Linked DNA regions of Homo sapiens: region 2 is linked to region 1. Evidence: fine-mapped QTL for protein levels in blood plasma. A gene starts in region 1. The other region holds a variant in brackets. All regions are shown on one strand. Distances are from middle to middle. Region 1 holds the start of CASS4 (Cas scaffold protein family member 4). Region 2 has its middle 200 kb from the start of BMP7-AS1.

The links. PIP is the posterior inclusion probability: the model's chance that the variant is causal. Sun 2018 read protein levels with aptamers (SomaScan).
Region 2: its variant is fine-mapped to the plasma level of the CASS4 protein (Sun 2018, PIP 0.95).

The regions. Positions count from the first base shown.
Region 1 is chr20:56,411,095-56,414,010 of GRCh38, forward strand. It overlaps CASS4 (Cas scaffold protein family member 4), which reads left to right and starts at 1,166. Exons shown (of 6, transcript NM_020356.4): 1 at 1,166-1,400. The coding sequence starts at 1,365.
Region 2 is chr20:57,013,044-57,015,959 of GRCh38, forward strand. No RefSeq gene overlaps it. Among named protein-coding and RNA genes, the nearest start is that of BMP7-AS1, 200 kb to the right of the region's middle. RefSeq lists a silencer at 1,643-1,806. The variant C/T (reference allele first, on the strand shown) is at 1,451.

The sequences.
Region 1 (2,916 bases):
CTTGCCTCAGAGGTGTGGTAAAAGAAAAGAAAATTTAAAAATAAAAAATTAAAAAATGCTGTCTGACAAGAAGATAGCGGTAAGCTATCCCCCACAGCTGGTTGGGGATAGAACTTGAGCCTGGCTTGGAAGAATGGGCACCATTTTGTCTAAATAAAAATGCAGGCCGGGGCCAGGCGTTGTGGCTCACGCCTGTAATCCCAGCATTTTGAGAGGCTGAGGTGGGTGGATCACTTGAGGTCAGGAGTTTGAGACCAGCCTGGCCAACATGGTGAAGTCCTGTCTCTACTGAAAATACAAAAATTAGCCAGGCGTGGTGGCGGGTGCCTGTAATCCCAGCTGCTCTGGAGGCTGAGGCAGGAGAATCACTTGAACCCGGGAGGTGGAGGTTGCAGTGAGCCGAGATTGCGCCACTGCGCTCCCACCTGAGTGACAGAGAAAGACTCCGTCTCAAAAAAAAAAAAAAATGCAGACTTATTTTGCTCAGTGTCTGCTATGCTGTAGGTCCTCTCTAGAGATTGGATCTGAATTTAGGAAAAGTAAAAAGAGTTGGCAAGTGATGATAAACTGCATGAGCTAGCAGGGGTTTCAAGTACAACACACACGATAAGTTTATTTGATTTAAGAGAGAGAATACAGGTGCGGGGCTCAGCATAGCCCTCAGTGCAGAGCCAGTACCCAGAAGATGTTATTCATTAGGTACCATGAGCAAAGACCAGGAGATGAGCATGGGGTTCCGAGCAGGGTGAATGCACAACTGACAGGGTGGGTAGAGTGGAGACTGTGTCCTTTAAGGCAGCCTGTTTGACTGCTTTTATCCTGGCTGTCATAAGGCAAGTTTTAGGGAGCAGGAAGGAAGAAATGCTGACCGCTATCAGAAATTTGGCCTAGTGGCCTCTCATCAGGGAAATGAGCTTGGTCTGTTCGGTTGGAGTTGTTCCACAGAGTTCAAAGGACAAGAATGCTGTGTGTTCATACACTGAGCTCTTCGAAGTAGGAACTTCGCCCTATAAAGCAGAAGAGTGGTGTTTTTTTCTTCTTCTTCTTCTTTTGTGGTTTCACATAGCAAATGAGTGACAGTCTCTACTTACAGACAAAGTGAGACGTCAGGCATTGAGACGTGAGTGTGGCTTGTATTTCTGGTCCTCCCCTGCTTCACTGCTTTCATTTTACTCTTATCGTGCTTTCCAGAAAGTTTGCCTGCTGGGAGAGTCTTTTTGATCGTTTCCCATGTGTTGTCAGATAGCTCCATAGAATTCAGTTTCTGAGAACCAGCCAGAAGCATGCAGTGACATTGCACAATCTGCCTCTGAAGCTGGAGATACTAGCTGCAGAGCTCAGGGGAGCTGCTCCACATCACCGACATGAAGGGAACAGGCATCATGGACTGTGCGCCCAAGGTGAGTGATGTGGGGCTGTTTGAATGGGCTCTGGCGGGGAGCAAGCTGTGATGATTAAGGGTGTTGACCAGCTTTAGTTGTGACTTTCTAATAAAGGTTGAATACCAGTGACGTGTGAGTTGGAGATGGGAAAGTTTAACATAAGTTTAAGTGTGGGAAATAGATGTGTTGTAAAGCTCCTTACCAGTTTGCATCCAAGATGGGTGAAAATGACTTTGTAGTAGAAATCAGCTTACTTGGTTGACAGCGCCGTCCATCATTTTGCGTCCAGCAAACTCCTGAAGCAAGATGCGAGTCTGCCTCAGCCCCCGCTAATTCCTTCTTTCTCTGGACCCCAAAGACACTCAGTGCCACTCTAACTGTCCTATTTGGTTTCTGTGCTCACCTCCCAACAGCAGAGCCCAGACCCTTGCCTGCAGCCTCCCGTGCTGAGCCCACAGTGGGCACTTACATGTTATTTTCATGTTAACTTGTGCATTATGTGAGCAAAGCTGGAGCTTTCAGACAGACTTCATGCCTGTCATGAATCAAAAAAGATTCACTATTTAGAAAGGTGAAAGAAGCCAGGCACGGTGGTACATACCTGTACTCCAGCTACCGGAGAGGCTGAGGTGAGAAGATTAATTCAGCCCAGAAGTTTGAGTCCAGCCTGGGCAACATAGCGAGACCCCATCTTAAAAAAAAAAAAAAGAAAAGAAAAGTTAAAATGGCTACCATATTAAAAAAAAATTTACCCAGACATAAAGAAAGTGAAGCTCAAGGTTGTGTTTTCATCTTGCTATGCCCTTTTTAAATTTTAAGTAGAACAGGAAAAAAGAAATGAAACAAGCAGTAAATGGGGAGCTTGCTTATAAAAATCAATGCTTATTTTTCATTATAATAAAAGTGACTAGTGTGGCTGTCTGCGGTGGCTCACACCTGTAATCCCAGCACTTTGGGAGGCCAAGGCAGGTGGATCACTTGAGGCCAGGAGTTTGAGACCAGCCTGATCAACATGAAAAAACCCCATATCTACCAAAAATACAACAATTAGCTGAGCGTGGTGGCGCATGCCCGTGATCCCAGCTACTCGGGAGGCTGAGGCACAAGAATCGCTTGAGCCTGGGAGGCAGAGGTTGCAGTGAGCTGAGATTATACCACTGCATTCCGGCCTGGGTGACAGAGCAAGACTCTGTCTCAAAAAAAAAAAAAAAAAAAAAAAAAAAGTCACTAGTGGAATTTGTGACTGAGTAACCCATGACAGTCTCTCTTGTATAGATTATATGTAAATATCTTAGCTACCCTAGAATTTTGTCCCCAACTACTTACTTTGAAAAATTTCAAACCATTGGAAAAATATGGGAAGCGTGGGGGTTATTCAGTAAATCCCTGCATATCCTTCACCTAGATCATTGGTTTCTGGTACTTTGTCATATTTGTGTGCATTTATTTGTGTATATTTAGACACTGGAACACACTTCATTTTTATTGTTGTTGTTAAACTCTTTGAAAATAAATGGCCAATACAATGACGCTC
Region 2 (2,916 bases), 600 kb after region 1:
TTTTTTCCATTCTTGATTGTTCTCCTTTCTTTCCTGTGTATGTATATACAAACGTATTTTTAGCTATGCTAAGTAATTCTCTGCCATTCAAATAACATGAAATGTAACAGTAAAAATGTGAAAGCAATTTTTAAAGCTCAAAATAAGTGGCTGTGCGTTTAAAATAGTGAACATTTTCTAAGCTTATTCTAATATGACTCCCTTTAAGAGACTGTAATCTATGAAAAACCTTTGTTTATCAATAAAAGTTCCAATTCAGTTCTTTTTCACTTTGGAGAGAGTGAAAAACTAACTCATAAAATCATCATCTTGTTAATACTCTCCTCACCCTTACTAAAACACACACACTCTCTCTCTGTCTGCCAAGTTATGGCAAAATCTCCATTGCACATGGCTTAGTTTTAATCCAACACTGCTATGTATAATAATGTTTATTTATTTTTGTAAGGGCAAAAAAAATTTAAACATTTTTACAAAAGTGAATGTTTCTCTTTGATTTTGCACTCTCTCCTATGTTTTCCTTTGTTTTTATTTCCCGATTTCATTCCTTTGGTCACAAAAAAAAAAAATATGTATTTTTTGCCCAAGTGATTCTGGTCAATTTCGGTATCTTTTTCAGGGTTTTGACATTTGAGAAAACTTAATCTAGGTCAGGGAGTACCTGCTGCTGAAAAGAATCTTCTGGAATGCCATTTTGATTTGGTGTAACCTTTGTTAGCAAGTTCATGTCAAAGGTCACTGAGCACATAGAGTGCGGGGGATGGCCAAGACCTAAACAAGGGAATACATGTCAAAAGCAATTTTCCGAAAGTGCCTGCCTCGACAAGCAAGCCACCGGCCCGCGCAGTCCGGGGCTACAGAGCGCTCAAGACCTTTCCCTCGGGTGCTGAGGGAAGGATCCCCTATCAGAGATCTCCAAGGAAGGCCCCGCCTCCACCTGCCCCTCCCGCAGGAGAGCGCTGCTGCAGAATCTGCCGCCTGGCCGGTGTTCACCCAGCGAACGAGTTCTGCTCCCAGCTCGTTTACTCATGAAATTAACTGCTGCTTCGAAGGAACGGCAGTTCATGTCAAAAGCTGCACCTGAAATCTTTCACCTCTGCGTTTTCCTTCTACCTGTTTGCAATTCTCACGTTCGCCCCTCACCCTCAACTCGAATGCTGGGTTTGACCCCACTCCTAATATCTTCAAATCATTTTCATTGATAGGGCACCTTGTGTTGTAAAAACGGATTTACTTTTTAAATAGATAATTTTTATATTAGTCGATGTACAAATGTGCTAGAGAAAAAGAAAACTCCTTTCCCCCGTTCACTCCAGCCATGTGGTTGCCCTCCCCAGAGGCAAATCTATCTATCTATCTATCTATCTATCTATATCTATCTATCTATCTATCTATCTATCTATCTATCTATCTATCTGTCTGTCTCTCTATATTTTTTGAGACAGGGTCT[C/T]GCTCTGTCGCCCAGGCTGGAGTGCAGTGGCACAATCATGACCCACTGCAGCCTCGACCTCCTGGACTCAAGTGATCCTCTCAGCTCAGCCTCCCAGGTAGCTGGGACCACGGCACGTGCCACCAAGCCCAGCTAATTTTTCTATTTTTTGTAGAGATGAGGTTTCGCCATGTTACTCAGGCTGGTCCCAAATTCCTGGGCTCAAGCAATCCACCCACTTTGGTCTCCCAGAGTGCCGAGATTACAGGCGTGAGGCACCATGCCCCGCCCAGGCAATTAATATTACCAGTTTTTTATACTTTTCCAAAGATGCTTTAGGGATATGTCAGCAAATATGTGCATATAGTCACTTTTCCTTCTTTTTACACAAGTGGCAGCAAGCTTTACTCATGGTCCATAGGACACTGGATGGTGTTCTTTGGGGCATCTTCCAGCAATGAGCTACTCTCTGCAATGCTTGGTGTACGATAATCCTAGCAGCTAACACCAGGGCTTTCTGAGCTAGCACTAGGCTAAGCTTATCATGCTCACTTTCTCACTGAGTTCTCACCATAACTTAATGTGGTAGATAGTATTATTATCTCTGCTTTGCAGATGGAGCAGAATTTAGAGAGACTCAGAGGCACATTTAAGTGACATAACACACAGCTGAGTGGAAGAGATGGGATTTGAACCCAGGTTGGCCTGACCAGAGAAATCTGAACTAATTTGTTTGTCTAGAGTTCAATTTCACTCTTATAGTATGCTACGTTAGGTTAGGTTTCATTATGTTTATTGAGCAGCTTCTATGTGCCAGGCACAGTGCCAAGGCCTGGAGATACAACAGTGAACAAGAGAGAGATGGTTCAGCCCACATACAGCCCATGATCTCTGTGGGAGACAAACTTCAAACTAAGGTAGTGGGTTGAACAGAGTCCCCAATATTCATGTCCATCCAGAACCTCAGAAACAACCTTATTTGGAAATAGGTTTTGACAGAAGTTGTTAGTTAAGAAGAGATCATACTGGATTAGGAAGGGCTCTAAATCCAATGACTGGTGTCCTTCCTAGAAAAGGAGAGGACACACAGAAAGACACAGGGAAGAAAGCCATGTGAGGACGGAGGCAGAGATTGGAATGACACTGCTACAAGTCCAGTGACACCAGGAGTCACCAGGAATGGGAAGAGGCCTGGAAAGGATTACCTCCTAGAATCTCAGGAGGGAGTGTGGCCTTGCTGATACCTGGTTGCAGATTTCTCGCCTCCAGAACAACGTGAGAATGAATTTCCGCTGTTTTAAGCCACCTGGGTTGTGGTCATTTGTTACAGCAACTCTCACAAAAAAATACAGATGCTACACACACAGGTACATGGGTAAGATGCTACGAGGGATGAGAACAGGAGGCCCCTAATTTAGGTTTGGGACAGGATGTTGGGGAGGGTGGTGTCTAAATCACAGAGTGGGCCAATCACTTGCACAGGAGAA